Linked DNA regions of Homo sapiens: region 1 is linked to region 2. The links come from fine-mapping of genetic effects on gene expression. Tissue or cell type: whole blood. Region 2 holds a variant in brackets; the other region holds the start of a gene. All regions are shown on one strand. Distances are between the middles of the regions.

Evidence for each region. PIP is the estimated chance that this variant, and not a neighbour inherited with it, causes the effect.
Region 1: it holds the start of KCMF1, and the variant in region 2 is fine-mapped to the expression of KCMF1 in whole blood (TOPMed, PIP 0.97).

Annotation. Positions count from the first base shown.
Region 1 is chr2:84,967,754-84,975,930 of GRCh38, reverse strand. It overlaps KCMF1 (potassium channel modulatory factor 1), which reads right to left and starts at 4,770. Exons shown (of 7, transcript NM_020122.5): 1 at 4,464-4,770. The coding sequence starts at 4,479. RefSeq lists enhancers at 414-955, 956-1,497, 5,764-5,843 and silencers at 3,896-4,985, 5,016-5,265.
Region 2 is chr2:84,932,533-84,940,709 of GRCh38, reverse strand. No RefSeq gene overlaps it. Among named protein-coding and RNA genes, the nearest start is that of TMSB10, 31 kb to the right of the region's middle. RefSeq lists an enhancer at 692-1,201. The variant C/G (reference allele first, on the strand shown) is at 3,489.

The DNA of each region.
Region 1 (8,177 bases), 35 kb before region 2:
TTAAGGCGACACATGTACCTAGATCCAGGTAATCAATTAGGCTCTAATCTATGCAAGAACATTCATGATTTCATTTTAGCTAATAAGCAGCGAGCAATTTGTTAAGTTGCTTTTTTTTATTTGGAAAGCTTTAAAAGTAGATTTTAAGCTCTGAATAACATACTTACATTTTAAATGTATTTGAAAGTATGATAGTGAGACATTTTAAAAAATACATCAAGATAAAAAATGATTGGGTTCACTGTGAACTAGACAGTGTTGGCAGGGTGAACACAAAGTGGGTGCTAAAGTCTATAAAATGTTAACATGACAAGAACACCACAAAGTGAGTTAAAAGTGGCCCTACAATTCTCACTGGAAAAGTATTAACGGGCAAGCAGGAAAAATGTAGGGTACTGCCATCTCCACTAAGGGTCTGTAGGGTGGGGAGCCTGTTGTCCACTCCTGAGGAACAATTATTTCCATTCCTCATGGTGCTGCTGAAAAGTGAAGTACGGAGGAGCTGGTTCAGTCTGTGAACTCATTTCCCATCACCCAAAGAAAATGACGGAATCCCAAGCTGACTGGGCCCCTTCTAGACTCTTGATAGTTCAAGCTCTATCAACTCTCTAAAGCGCCAGTCTAGGGCAGAGGTAAAGTAAGGCAAACTACAGCCCTCAGGCCAAATCCAACCACCACTTTTTTTTTTGGAGATGGATTCTCACTCTGTCGCCCAGGCTGGAGTGCAGTGGCACGACCTCAGCTCACTGCAACCTCCACCTCCTGGGTTCAAGCAATTCTCTGCCTCAGCGTGAGCCACCACGGCCGGTCCACCACCAGCTTTTATATAGCCCGAAAGTTAAGAATGGTTATTTGTATTTTTGAATGGTGGGGGTGTCAAATGACAAATCATATTTCATGACACATGAAAATTATATGAAATTCGGCCAGGTGCGGTGGCTTACGCCTGTAATCCCACCACTTTGGGAGGCCGAGGCCGGCGGATCACGAGGTCAGGAGTTTGAGACCACCCTGGCCAACATGGTGAAACCCCATCTCTACTAAACGAAATACAAAAATTAGCCGGGCGCAGTGGTGGGCGCCTGCAATCCCAGCTACGCGGGAGGCTGAGGCAGGAGAATCACTTGAACCCGGGAGGTGCAGGTTGCAGTGAGCCAAGATCACGCCACTGCACCCTAGCCTGGGCAACAGAGCAAGACTGTGTCTCAAAAAAAAAAAAAAAAAAAAAAAAAAAAAAAATATATATATATATATATATATATATATATATATGAAATTAAAATGTCAGTGTCCACAAATAAAGTTTTAATTGGAACAGAGCCATGATCTTTCAATTACAGGTTGTCTATAGCTGCTTTCGTACTATTACAGCTCCGCCAAGCCTGCAATGTTTGCCACCTAGCCCTTTACAGAAGAAGCATGCTGAACCCGGGACTAGAGCATCTCTCTATGCTCCTGGTTGCATTGCCTTTCTCAGAGGCACTGCTTCACAAGGTTGAGCCTTCAAGCTTGACAGGTGTCCATCTCAGGACTGTGTCATCCAAAGTTACATTAATAAAATCATAGGATTTAGTGTAATTCATTAGGGTGGGTACAAAGACAAAGTAACATATTACCTGCACACATAAGGCCCTGAAAAGGAAGCACCAAGCAAGTACAACATGATAGGCTTGTTCAAACCTTTTACCAGACTATTATATCCAGTTCAGGATCACACTACTGAAAGGAAATGAGAACTACAGAGAATTTGGAGGTGGACAGATGACTGAGAGTGCAAAAATTACACCACTAAAGAAACACGGAGGCTGGGCGTGGTGGCTCACGCCTGTAATCCCAGCACTTTGGGAGGCCAAGGCGGGTGGATCACCTGAGGTCAGGAGTTCAAGACCAGCCTGACCAACATGATGAAACCCGATCTCTACTAAAAATACAAAAATTGGATGGGTGTGGTGGCAGGCGCCTGTAATCCCAGCTACTTGGGAGGCTGAGGCAGGAGAACTGCTTGAATCTGGGAGGTGGAAGTTGCAGTGAGCCGAGATCACGCCACTGCACTCCAACCTGGTGACAGAGTGAGACTCCAGCTAAAAAAAAAAAAAAAAAAAAAAGAAAGAAATAAAGAAAAAGAAAGAAAGAAAGAAATGCTGAAAGAAATGGGATTCTTTGGCCCAAAAAAGGCAAAGGTAAGAAAAGAACTAATAGCAAGGGTGCCAAACACTGTATTTACTGATAGGTCAAAGTCTTACTGATGACAATAATGACAGTCTGAACTAATATTCCACAAAATATGTATCTAATGAGTTAAATGTGATTCGTGAGACTGCTATTCCTGTCTTAGGCCATAAACTAGACCCTTGAAAGAGAATCACTTGTCGAATATTGTACTATAAGTCTTCAACAGATGTATTTAGGTATGTTCCTTTTTCATTAGGTATGTTCTATTTACTGACATTAACATAAGTTACTAGGAAAGGTGTGCTACTAGTGTGCTGAGGTTCAGCAATATTCAAGTAACTAAAAGGTAATATAAGTTTCATAACCACACACCTTTGCACAGCACCAAATGGGGGGAAATGGGCTTAAATTACAGAATATATGTTACATTCAAGAATGTTCCAAATATGAGATTTTAATTACTCTAACAGAGCACTGGGGGTGAAGGAATTTTCTTCCCAGGACACTTCAATTAGAATGCTCGTCTGGAACTATCTGTATGCTTTCTTAGACCAAGGAGAATGGGTCTGAAACACTCTTCCATGGCTGTGATTCTCTAACTAACCCTCCCAGTTTTCAAGAGTAAGAGAGCTTGCAGCCATTGCTCACTTTTGTTTTGTCTTGAAGGTGGTCAATGTACACAGGACTACAGTTTAAGATAAACTTTAATATCCCAAATTGAAAACTGATTATAACTTTAATTACGAGTTCTTAAAATTACAGAGATAAGGATACATTTCGATTAAGCAGACGAAGTGGGGAAAAGAGGCATAGCTTCCTACTTCTGTGTCCCTTTCAATGAGGCTAGGTACCTCATTATTTCAAAATGCCCAACACTTGAACACTGTAAGTACTCAACAAATGCTTTGCGAAGAAAATATAGTATATTTCATATTAGTTTTGTAACTTTTAAAATACAGAATCGTTGAACACAGAATGTTGAGTCAATTTCAACGTCGCAATTAGTAATGCGAATTTTGAAACTTGTTCTAAATACAATTTTAATCAATCTGAGTTTTTCAGCCTTGAAATTCTAAGGTCCGTATTTCCCAAAGAATATCCTTCCCATAGTGCTAAGCACACACTAAACTGACTCACTAAACTTTCTCCACTCCTACATCACCTATACAGGATTTTAAAATCCGGAGTACACAAACTTTCAAGCCACTTCTACAATCTTGTATTAACCTTAGCAGGACAAACTTTTCGCCAAGACTCTTAACACTTTTTATCCAAAAACCTGTAGTAGTGAAACAAAGAAAACACAACCCCCTCCTCCTTTTCTAAACCATATGGCAATAAATTAAAGTTAACTTATTTCTTACCAGCTCAAAGCCTATACATCGACCCTAAACATTTGTCTCTTTGTGCCCTGGGACTGGGCTTAGAGCTGTCTGCTTATTTGCAACTGTACTCCAATCGTGTTTTAAAATGGCAAAACAAGGTCCAAAACGACCCCCGACCATGAACAGACCTCACCATCGTCATTTTCCAAAACCTGGTCTGGTAGGCAGCACATGCCGGCGAGGGCACCAGGGCCGCGGGGAGCGAGCCCTGCTCCGCCTGGGTGACTGAGCAGGGAGTTTGCTTGCTGCGGCGGGGTCGGATCCACCCCGGGAACTTGGTTACCCGAGCCCAGGGACGCGCCGAGGCCTAGCCGCGAGGCCGGGGCGGGCTCCAGGCGGCGAGGGCTTCCCGTCCCTTGGCCGCAGAGCCTTCCCGCCAGCCCCGCGGTCGCCCGCAGGCGGGGACACTCGCCGTCGTCTCCCGGCGACCGGACGCGCCTGCCGGGTCCCGGGCCGGCTCTTTTGCCTCCTGCTGCCGCCCGCGGCCCGGCTCTGCGACCACACCGGGCTCTTCCGGGGCGGCGGGAGCGCTAGGCCGCGCTGGGGCCCGCGGCTCCTGAACCGGCCGGGCGGGCCTTGGCGTCCGGTATCAGTCCCGAAGGCCGAGCTCCCGCCGGTAACGGGCCCCGCCGCCTCCCCTCCCCCTCCGCCCCATGACAGTGCAAACCCTCCGGCCGCCCGGGCCGCCCCGCCTCCAGCACCAGGCCCAGCTAAGGGCCGCGGCCGTGGCGGCAGCGGCGCCGCGGCTCTCCGCCCTCGCTCGCTCGCTCCCGGGTCCAGCGCCTCGGGCCCGGCTCGGGCTCGGCCAAAGTCTCCGCCGCTTCCCGGCCGCCCTCCGCCGCGCCCGGCCCGGGCGGGGTAGGCCGAGGCCCGGGAGGTGCGGGTGGGGGCGGGGGCTCCTCTCACCTTCATGTCGGGACATCCTAGTTCAGACGGTGGCGGCGCGGCCCCTCCCGGGCTCCGGCTGCAGTGTCCCCCGCGGGGTCCCGGCGCTGCCCGCGCCGGCCGGCCGACTCCCACTCGACTCCCGGGCTCGGCCGCGGGGGCGGGGTGGGCAGGGGAGCGCTCCCGCGGCGGCGGCGGCGGCGGCGGCGGGGAGGCGGCGCGGGGCGGGAATGGGGCCGGGCCTGGTCGGGGCTGAGCTCCTCCAGGAGGCGGGTCCGACGCCGCAGCTCCGCCGGCGCCCGCCGTGACTCCGGTCACTCTCGGGCCTGCCGGCTCCCGGCAGCGGCGCGGCGCTCCGCAAATCCCGCTCCTCCCCTCCCCCGGCCCACCCCCCGCCCCTCTCCCCCGGCTCCCGGCCGCCGCCTCCTCCTCCTCCTCTTCCTCCTCCTCCGCCTCCTTCCGCCGCCCGCACGCCAGCCCCGCCTCTCGCTGCCCTCGCCGGGCCCAGCCGCCCGGAGGCCCCGCGGCCGGCGGTCGCGACGGGGGCGACGCGGCGACGGCGGCTCGGGGCGCGGCGCTTGCCCGCGCTAGCCAGCAGGCCGCGATCGGGCGCCCGTGCCCAGCCTCGGCCTGGCCGCCGCCGCCGCCGCCGCGCCGCGCGTAGGGAGGAAGAGGAAATGCCCGGCGCCGGCTCCCGCTGCTCACCGGCGCGGCCCGAGGGGCGCCCGCCCGCCACGCCGCCCCTAGCCCCGCCTGGGGCGGGCCTAGGCCGGGCTATAGGGGCCAGGGCCTTGGGCTGCGCCGGCCGCGGGAGGTGGGTGCTTCTCGGCGGCGAGCTGCGACTCGGAGAGACTCCTGTCCGCAGGTGCATGGCTTCCGGGCGGGCCTCGGGCAGCGAGCTCCAGCCCCACTGAGAGGCCGCGGACCGCCTGGGGACTTGTGTTTGTGTGTATTTTAAGCCAACAGCCCAGAAAGGGAAGGCGACTGGCCCCCGGTCTTCGCCAGTGTTTCCCGGCCGGGTTACTGGTGGTCAGGAGGGAAGCCAGGAGGCTGCCGGGCTCCGAGGCCGATTCCTTGCGAACCATCTCCGTTAAAGACTCCGCGCCGGGCAGCCCGGGAGTCCGGCGGTACCCGCGCAAACTTTGTCCCAGCGCCTTGGCTCACCGTGAATGCCCTGCCTTGAAAATTTGGAGTTTTTTGTTTCCTGAAAGTGGTCTGCTTTTCCGATTTTATCTGTGTTTTCCATTTTTACCTTCTTATTGTCAATTTGTTTTCAGGCATTATTAATTCAACAAATCTTTGTACTGCCCCTTACCACGTGTCGATGGTTCCGTGGTTTGGTGGAAATAGATCGCGCTTTGAAGTCAAGACGGATCGGCCATGGAATTTTGGCTCTGAGATCCTCTGTGTAACCGTGGATGAGCTACAAGGCCTGCTGAGCCTCCATTTGTCTGGTTTTTGTGGTTGTTTTAATTTATCTTTTTCCATTTGAAGTTGTGGGTTTTGCATAAAATTGAACTGTTACCAGGCTAAGTCAACTGAAATTGGAATCTGGGGTACTGCTTGCTTTGAGGTTACTCTTATACTGTCCACCATTTGCTGGCTGTGTGATCTCTAAACCTCTCTGTGCCCTGACTTTTCTATCTTTAAAATGGACGTAACAACAGAGGTTTAATAATAAGAGGTTTGGAGGTTAAGTGCTAAAATGCATATAAAATACCTAGCACAGGACACAGTAAAAAGATTGTTACCGTATTTCATTGAATCTGGTTTTAAGACACTTCCTGATTTCAAAGAAACTAAAAGCTCATCTTGAAGTCCAGGAAGTAGGTTTTGGGTCACTCAGAACTCCCAAGGGACTGTATTTGGTAGTAACTAGTGATAAACAAACTGGAGTTTAAATGAGGACTTTGTCACCAGAGATATTTTTATTGCCTGTATGGAGCTCCTGCACAAATTTATTCCATTTCTCTTGTAGAAAGAGATCCAACCTGGCCGTAAATGGGGTGTGGTGGAGTAGAAAGAAGGGTATTAAGTAAAGCTCTGTGTCGATGCCTTTCTGAGCATTTTACGGTGTTGGCATATGTGATCCTGGGTATCAGGAGCCTCAATTTCTTGGGCTGTAAAAATGGGGAGAACAACGCTGATCCCATTGTCTCCTGATGGGTAAGTGATGTCTATAAATAAATTGTATAGAGATTAAGGCATTATCAGTGCTGTAGTCTGATAAAATGGTGGAGCAGATAGGAAAGCCTACAACAGTACTGAACTGCAGGAGGGACTAAGAGTAAATATAGAGATTTCATTTGCTTGGTTTTGCAGAGGGTTAGCTAACTAAACAGATAACTTTGTTTTCGACAGTTACTTCATTTTTTTCAGTCAGGCAAGAGTAAGGAGAGAGTAACTAAACCATTTTTTTTCCTCTTTAAATAAGAGTAAGCAGAAATATTATGGTTATTTGGGGTTTTCATGACCTTCATTCACTTAGCGGTCAGGCTGTTCAATTTAAAACAACCTTTTGCTTGCTGCCCTGCCATATGGGAAATTTCATTTCCAAAAAAAGGATTAATTTCCAGCCTGGGCGAAACCCTATCTCTACGGAAAATATAAAAATTAGCGGCCAGGAGCAGTGGCTCATACCTGTAATCCCAGCACTTTGGGAGGCCGAGGCAGGTGGATCACGAGGTCAGGAGTTCAAGATCAGCCTGGCCAAGATGGTGAAACCCCATCTCTACTAAAAATACAAAAATTAGCCTGATGTGGTGGCACGCGCCTGTAATCCCAGCTACTTGGGAGGCTGAGGCAGAGAACTGCTTGAACCTGGGAGCATTCCAGCCTGGATGACAGAGTGAGACTCCGTCTCAAAAAAAAAAAAAAAATTAGCTGGGCGTGGTGGCATCCGCCTTTGGTCCCAAATACTCAGGAGGCTGAGGTGGGAGGATTGCTTGAGCCCAGGAGGTCGAGTCTGCAGTGAGCCGTGATTGTACCACCACATCCTAGTCTGAGTGACAGTGTGACACTCTGTCTCAAAAAAGAAAAGAAGATCAAGAAGGATTAATTTAAATCCTTATACCAAATTGTCTACCAAATGATTTTTGTTCCACTCCAGAAATGTTTTCCTCCAGTCCCTTCCTCTCTCTGCACCCTCCTGAGTTCTCCTTTCTTCTGTGGACAACTGTAACTAATGCGTGTTTTTGCTAGGCTGACCCTTCTTTCATACTATGGCCCAATTATGTTTTTTCAAATAAGCTAATGGATGTAAGCACTGGTGAAATCTGAATAAGGTCTGTAGTCTACTTGATAGTATTGTACCAATGTCAGTTTCCTGGCTTTTGATATTTTTCCATAGCTTTGTAAGATGTTCCCATTTGAGAAAGTGTACCTGGGCCCTCTTTGCAACTACCTATGGGTAAATGATTATTTCAAAGTAAAAAATTAAAGTATAGGGACAGAAATTAGATCAATGGTTACTGGCAACTGGAGCTGGGGAAGGGTGGACTGATCACACTTTTTGAGATGATGAGAATATTCTCTAACTTGATTGTGGTATTTACATTACTGGATGACTCTGTGAATCTGTCAAAACTCATAGAACTATACACCTAAAAGGGTGGTTTTTTTTTTTTTTTTTTTTTTTAGATGAAGTCTCGCTCTTGTCCCCCAGGCTGGAGTGCAATGGTGTGATCTCGGCTCATTGCAACCTCCGCCTCCCGGATTCAAGCGATTCTCCTGCCT
Region 2 (8,177 bases):
ATTCTTTTTACCATTGGAATTTTGAACTTATTATGTTTTGTTTATTTATTTACTTATTTATTATTTTTTTGAGACGGAGTCTCGCTCTGTTGCCTAGGCTGGAGTGCAGTGGTGCCATCTCGGCTCACTGCAAGCTCCGCCTCCTGGGTTCAAGTGATTCTTATGCCTCAGCCTCCCAAGTAGCTGGGATTATAGGTGCCTGGCTAATTTTTCTATTTTTAGTAGAGACGGGGTTTCGCCATGTTGCACAGGCTGGGATTTCAGGTATGCGCCACCACACCCTGCTAATTTTTGTATTCTTAGTAGAGACAGGGTTTCACCATGTTGGCCAGGCTGGTCTCAAACTCCTAACTTCAAGTGATCCGCCCACCTAGGCCTCCCAAAGTGCTGAGATTACAGGAGCAAGCCACTGTGCCTGGCCTGATTTTTTAAAGAGCTCCCTCCCCCAGTCTCCCTAGCTGAGATTGGGGGGTGAGGGCAATTTGCATCTCAGGGAAGGTATGCTGGTCTCATTTCATCTCAATGATCCTTTATCTCCTCCACCAGAAAGCCCATCTTTGGTCATTTCTTTCTTCACATTGACTTGGCATAAACTTTTAACGTTATCAACAACTGCTTAGCCTAATATTAGCTTTCATTTCCCTTCTCCTTCCCACAGAAGGCTTTGTGCTTTCACGAACTCCCGGTTTGGTCAGGCTAAGGTTCTGGATTTCAGTCTTGGCTCTAGCGGCCGGCAGCTGTGTGGACACTCTACCATCTCAGTCTTTATTGCTTGACAATTGTAGCTGCTTTCAGCAAAGTTTGTTAAGCTCAGGGGCTGTTCCAATTGTCAGTTCTTCCTCCTCTGGTGGGGAAAGTCCCCTTTAAAGCCACGTGCTTAAAACTGAAACCTGCAGGCCATCACAAAGGCGGGGTCTCCACACCCATCTCAGCTCCACCAACTGCAGGCTCCCAAGTACCTCTTACACCCTTGCTGATGACCGCCCTTGGAGGAAGTTCAAGGCCAAGGTGGCTTGAGAAACCCAGCTCTTGGCAGTTTCTAAATCTAGATTAATTTTCCCTCCAGAGAGGAAATTTTGTTGGTTGCAACCTGGTTGCTGCCATGTGACCAGGCTTGGCCAGTCCAGATCTTCCCCCAGGTAGAAGGATCTGGATAGACTGACGGCAGACAAATAGAGACTGTTCTCAGCAGCCACGGCAGTAGACTGCAGACTGCAGCCTTAAGTAACCACCCCCCACCCCTACCCTCATCCCCTTCACTTTCACCACTACCCTTTCACATCACCACCATCATAATCACTACCCCTGCCGTCACACCAAGGTCACCTTACAACTCCATTTGTCTAGCAGAGACTTCACTGAAAGATTGGGGTAATAACTAAATAACTGCAGAGGATGAACATGGTCATGTATCTGTGTAGCTAAAGGAACAGTCCCAGTGCATCCCATGGATCTGAGGGAGGCCTAAGGAGCTCTACCAGGAACATCCCTTCCCTGCAGACCTGCTGGTGGGTCCGCAGCTCAGCAAACTAGAAAACTGTGGACACGGCTGGGTGAGGTGGCTCATGCCTGTAATCCCAGCACTTTGGGAGGCCGAGGTGGGCGGATCACCTGAGGTCAGGAGTTTGAGACCAGCCTGGCTAACACGGTGAAACCCCCATCTCTACTAAAAATGCAAAAATTAGCTGGGCATGGTGGCGGGCATCCCTACTCAGTAGGCTGAGGCAAAAGAATTGCTTGAACCCGGGAGGAGGAGGTTACAGTGAGCCGAGATTGTGCCATTGCACTCCAGCCTGGGCAACAAGAGTGAAACTCCGTCTCAAAAAAAAAAAAAAAAAAAGAAAAAAATAACTGTGTAGACTCTGACACTGTGGCATAAATATAAATGTACCCTAACATGCATGGGAACTTGTTTCTAACTTAGCATGTAGCGTGATGAAATGAAAAATAAGGTCTGTTATACCACATAAGGGTTCAGTTAAAGTCTTACCTCAGGATGTTTCTCCTCTGGTTTCACTTTTTAAATGAGTAATAAATCACACGTGTCATCTTTATAAGAAACTCCAGGATAGAGTTTTATTATTTTTTTTCTGGTCTTATATAAAAAAGAGTTGTACTTCTTTAGATTCAGGAGTGTGCCTTTTTTTTTTTTTCTTTGAGACAGGGTCTCATTCTGTCTCCCAGGCTGGAGTGCAGTGGTGTGACCACAGCTCATGAGGCATCCTCCCACTTCAGCCTCCTGAGTAGCTGACCACAGGCGTGTGCCACCACACCCTGCTAATTTTTAAAATTTTTTGTAGAGGTGGGGTCTTACTATGTTGCCCAAGCTGGTCTTGAACTCTTGGACTCTCACATGGACCTCCCAAAGTGCTGGGATTACAGGTGTGAGTCACCATGCCCGGCCAAGAGTTTGCCTTTATCACATAGTTATTGTAAACTGCATAACTAATCAGATTTCCCTTTTCACACAGGCTGCTAGGAAACTTTGAGTCAAATATACGGCCCAGCTCTGGCAAGCATTGAATTCTTTAAGCTCTGAATTTTTTTTTTCTTTTTTTCTTTTTTCTTTTTGAGATGGAGTTTCACTCTTGTTGCCCAGGCTGGAGTGCAATGGTGCGATCTCGGCTCACTGCAACCTCTGCCTCCCGGGTTCAAGTGATTTTCCTCCCTCAGCCTCCCAAGTAGCTGGGATTACAGGGGCCCACCACCACGCCCAGCTAATTTTTTGTATTTTTAGTAGAGATGGGGTTACACTATGTTGCCCAGGCTGTTCTCGAACTCCTGACTTCAGGCGATCTACCGGCCTCAGCCTCCCAAAATGCTGGGATTACAGGTGTGAGCCACTGTGTCTGGCTAAACTCTAAATTTTTTTTTTTTTTTTTTTTGAGACGGAGTCTGTCACTCAGGCTGGAGTGCAGTGGTGTGATCTTGGCTCACTGCACAGCCTCCTCCTCCTGGGTTCAAGCGATTCTCCTACCTCAGCCTCCCGAGTGGCTGGGACTACAAGCACAGGCCACTGCGCCCAGCTAATTTTTGTATTTTTAGTAGAGACGGGGTTTCACCATGTTGGCCAGGCTGGTCTCGAACTCCTGACCTCGTGATCTGCCCGCCTGGACCTCCCAAAGTGCTGAGATTACAGGCGTGAGCCACTGCACCCAGCCTAAGCTCTGAATTTTTAATCCCTATTCCTGGCTTGACTTTTTCTTTACTTTTGTCTCAGTTTTTTTTTTTTTCCTTTTTTTACTGAGTCTTGCTCTGTTGCCCAGACTGGAGGACAATGGCGCAATCTCAGCTCACTGCAACCTCTGCCTCCCAGGTTCAAGTGATTCTCCTGCCTTGGCCTCCCGAGTAGGTACGATTACAGGCACCCACCACCACGCCAGGCTAATTTTTGTATTTTTGTAGAGATGGAGTTTTACCATGTTGGCCAAGCTAGTCTTGAACTGCTGACCTCAGGTGATCTACCCACCTCAGCACCCCCAAAGTGC[C/G]GAGATTATAGGTGTGAGCCACTGGGCCCAAGCCCTTTTGCCTCCGTTTTAATTTCTGTCTTGTTATAAACTTGTAAACCACCATAAACCCTTTCCAGATCAAGATGGAGATTAGACCAGCAGATGTGTCTTGTCTAACCTCCTTTTATACGCAAGTTGAAGAGGTTGTACTGAAAACAACATGGAAGACTACTGGACATTGCACATTGAAATTAAGGTCATCTGTTTTTTTTTTTTCGAGATGGAGTTTCGTTTTTGTTGCCCAGACTGGAGTGCAATGGCTTAATCTCGGCTCACTGCAACCTCCACCTCCCAGGTTCAAGCGATTCTCCTGCCTCAGCCTCCCGAGTAGCTGGGACTACAGGCACATGCCACCACATCTGGCTAATTTGTGTATTTTTAGTAGAGATGGGGTTTCACCATGTTGGCCAGGCTGGTCTCCAACTCCTGACCTCGTGATCCACCTGCCTTGGCTTCCCAAAGTGCTGGGGTTACAGCCACCACGCCCGGCCTAGCCCAGGACATCTTTTTTTCTTCCTCCCCAAAAGGAAAACTACCCAGTCTGAATGAGTATCTTCTAAATCATTTTTAGATTTTGGAAGTCTCAACGTCAAGACTCAGGCATTTTGTTTGTCTTTTGAGACAGGGTCTCACTCTGTTACCCAGGCTAGAGTGCAGTGGTGTGACCACAGCTCACTGCAGCTTCTACCTCCTGAGTTCAGGCGATCCTCCCATTTCAGTTTCCTGAGTAGCTGGGACCACAGGCGCATACGATCACAGCCGGTGAATTTTTTCATTTTTTATAGAGATAGGATCTCCCTATGTTGCCCAAACTGGTCTTGAACTCCTGGGCTCAAGTGATCCTCCCACCTCAGCCTCCCAAAGTGCTGGGATTATAGGCATGAGTCACCACGCCCAGACTTTTTTTTTTTTTTTGAGATAGAGTCTTTCTCTGTTGCCCACGCTGGAGCACAGTGGCATCATCTTGGTTCAATGCAACCTCCACCCCCTGGATTTAAGTGATTCTTGTGCCTCAGTCTCCTGAGTAGCTGGGATTGCAGGTAGCGCGCCATCACACCCAGCTAATTTTTGTATTTTTAGTAGAGATGGGGTTTCACCATGTTGGCCAAGCTGGTATCGAACTCTTGGCCTCAAATGATCCACCCGCCTCAGCCTCCCAGAGTGCTGGGATTACAAGCATGAGCCACCCCACCTGGCCTGTTTTGTTTTTTGAGATGGGGGTCTCACTGTGTTGACGAGACTGGTCTCAAACTCCTGGGCTCATGCAATCTTCCCGCCTCAGCCTCCAGAGTAGCTGTGACTACAGGCACGCACCACCAATTCTGGTTAAGCCTCAGACATTTTTGATCTCTGATCCTCTGTAATCACCCATCCATGAGTCAAGAGGGGACTCTTGATATAACTGCCTGGGTAGGGAAGATCATGGGGTAGCAGAAAATACCAGGGAAAAACACATATAAACACTTACATCAAAATATTATTCATCGGTTTAAGGATACTATTTATTTATTTGTTTATAGATGGAGTTTCGCTCTTGTCACCCAGGCTGGAGTGCAATGGTGCAATTTTGGCTCATCGCAACCTCTGCTTCCCAGGTTCAAGCGATTCTCCTGCCTCAGCCTCCCGAGTAGCTGGGATTACAGGCATGTGCCACCATGCCTGGCTGATTTTGTATTTTTAGTAGAGACAGGGTTTCTCCATGTTGGTGAGGATGGTCTCGAACTCCCAACCTCAGGTGATCCGCCCGCTTTGGCCTCCCAAAGTGCTGGGATTACAGGCGTGAGCCACTGCACCTAGCCTAAGCATAATATTTTTAAAAAGAAAAAAAAAAGACTACTTTTAGAACACCTTTATTTTTATTTTAATTTTTTTTGAGATGGAGTCGCACCCTGTCGCCCAGGCTGGAGTGCAGTGGTGCAATCTGGGCTCACGGCAACCTCCACCTCCCAGGTTCAAGCAATTCTCCTGCATCAGCCTCCTGAGTAGCTGAGACTACAGGTGTGCACCACCATGCCCAGCTAATTTTTGTATTTTCAGTAGAGACAGGGTTTCACCATGTTGGCCAGGCTGGTCTTGAACTCCTGACCTCAGGTGATCCGCCTGCCTTGACCTCCCTAAGTGCTGGGATTACAGGCATGAGCCACCGTGCCCAGCCCACCTTTATAGAAAATTGAATTTATAGAAAATTTATAGAAAAATTGAACAGATAGTAAAGGAAGTTCCCATATATTTTCCTCTCACTGTTTCTCCTATTATTAACATCTTGCATTAGTGTGGTACATTAATTACAATTAATAAGCCAATATGAACACATTATTAGCTAAGGTCCATAGTTTAAATTAAAGTTGACTTTTTTTCTTCTTTTTTGTGACAGGGTCGTGCTCTGTTGCTCAGGCTAGAGTGCAGTGGGACGATCTTAGCTCACAGCAGCTTCAACCTCCCAGAGTCACGGTATCCTCCTGCCTCAGCCTCTTGAGTAGCTGGGACTACAGGCACGTGCCACTACACCTGGCTAAGTTTTGTATTTTTTGTAGAGGTGGGGTTTTGCCTAGGCTGGTCTCGAACTCCTGAGCTCAAGCAATCTGCCTGCATTAGCCTCCCAAAATGCTGGGATTACAGGTGTGAGCCACTATACCTGGCTTGTTATCTTCTAGAAGTTTCATAGTTTTCCATTTTCCATTTAGGTCTATGATCCATTTTGAGTTAATTTTTGTGAAAGGTGTAAGGCCTGTGTTTAGATTCCTTTTTTTTTTTTTTTTTTAATTGAGATGGAGTTTCACTTGTCACCCAGGCTGGAGTGCAATGGTGCGATTTTGGTTCACTACAACCTCTGCTTCCCAGGTTGAAGCAATTCTCCTGCCTCAGCCTCCCGAGTCGCTGGGTTTACAGGCATGTGCCACCACACCTGGCTAATTTTGCATTTTTAGTAGAGACGGGGTTTCTCCATGTTGGTCAGGCTGGTCTTGAACTCCCTACCTCAGGTGATCTGCCTGCCTCAGCCTCCCAAAGTGCTAGGATTACAGGCATGAGCCTCCGTGCCTGACCTAGATTCTCTCTCTCTCTCTCTTTTTTTTTTTTTTTGCCTATGTACATCTAATTGTTCCTAACTCTTTGTTAAAAAGACTGTCTTTTCTCAATGTATTGCCGTTGCTCCTTTGTCAAGGATCAGATGGCTGTATTTGTGTGTATCTATTTCAAGGCTCTGTATTCTGTTCCATTAATTTATTTGTCTATTCTTTTGCAAATACCATACTGCCTTGATTATTGTAGCTTTATAGTAAGTCTTGAAATTGAATAGTGTCAGACCTCTGACTTTGTTCTTTCTCTTCAGTATTGTGTTGGTTATTCTGGGTCTTTTGCCTTTCCATGTAAACTTTAGAATCAGTTTGTAGAGATCCACAAAATAACTTGCCAGCCTTTTTGTTTTTTTTAATTGGGATGGCCTTGAGTCTACAGATCAGGTTGGGCAGAATTGTCATCTTAATAATATTGAAACTTCTCATTCGTGAACATGGAATATTTCTCCTTTTATTTTTATAGGTTTATTCCAAAATATTTCTTTCTTCTATTTTGGTGTTAATATAAATTGTATTGTGTTTTAAATTTCAAACTGTGGCCGGGTACTGTGGCTCACGCCTGTAATCCCAGCACTTTGGGAAGCCAGGGTGGGCAGATCACCTGAGGTCAGGAGTTCGAGACCAGCCTGGCCAACATGGTGAAACTCCATCTTTACTAAAAATACAAAAAATTAGCTGGGTGTGGTGGTGGGCACCTGTAGTCCCAGCTACCTGGAGGCTGAGGCATGAGAATCGGTTGAACCCAGGAGGTGGAGGTTGCATTCAGCCCAGATTGGGCTACTGTGCTCCAGCATGGGTGACAGAGTGAGACTCTGTCTCAAAAAGTAAATAAGTAAAAAATAAAAATAAATTTCAAATTGCAATGGTTCATGCTAGTGTTTAGGAAAGCAATTGACTGTTGCATATTGGCCCTGTGACCAATGGATTCTGCAACCTTGCTATAAGGCTTATTAGCATTAGAAGGTTCTTGTTGATTTTTTGGGCACAGAGACATTAATGCCATCTGTGAGGAAAGACAGGTTTTTTTTCCTTACCAACGCTTATACCTGCCCCCTACTTCTTCTTCTTTTTATTTATTTATTTATTTATTTTATTTGACAGGGTCTTGCTCTGTCACCCAGGCCGGAGTGCAGTGGCATGATCATGGCTCACTGCAGCCTTGACTTCCTGGCATCAAGTAATCCTCCCACTTCTGCCTTTCCAGTAGCTGGGACTATAGGTGCACACCATCATGCCCAGCTAATGTTTCTTTTCTTTTTTTCTTTCTTTTTTTTTTTTTTGAGTCACAGTCTTGCTCTGTTGCCCAGGCTGGAGTGCAGTGGCTTGATCCCACTGCAACCTCTGCTTCCCAGGTTCAAGGGATCCTCCCACATCAGCCTCCCAAGTAACTGGGACTACAGGTGCACACCACCATGCCCAGATCATTTTTCTGTTTTCATAGAGACAGGGTCTCAGTATGTTGCCCTGGCTGTTTTTGAACTCCTGGGCTCAAAAGATCCTCCCACCTCGACCTCCCAAAGTGCTGGGATGAAAGGCATGAACCACCTGCACCTGGCCTTTAAAATTTTTTTTGTCTTCATATTTTATTGCA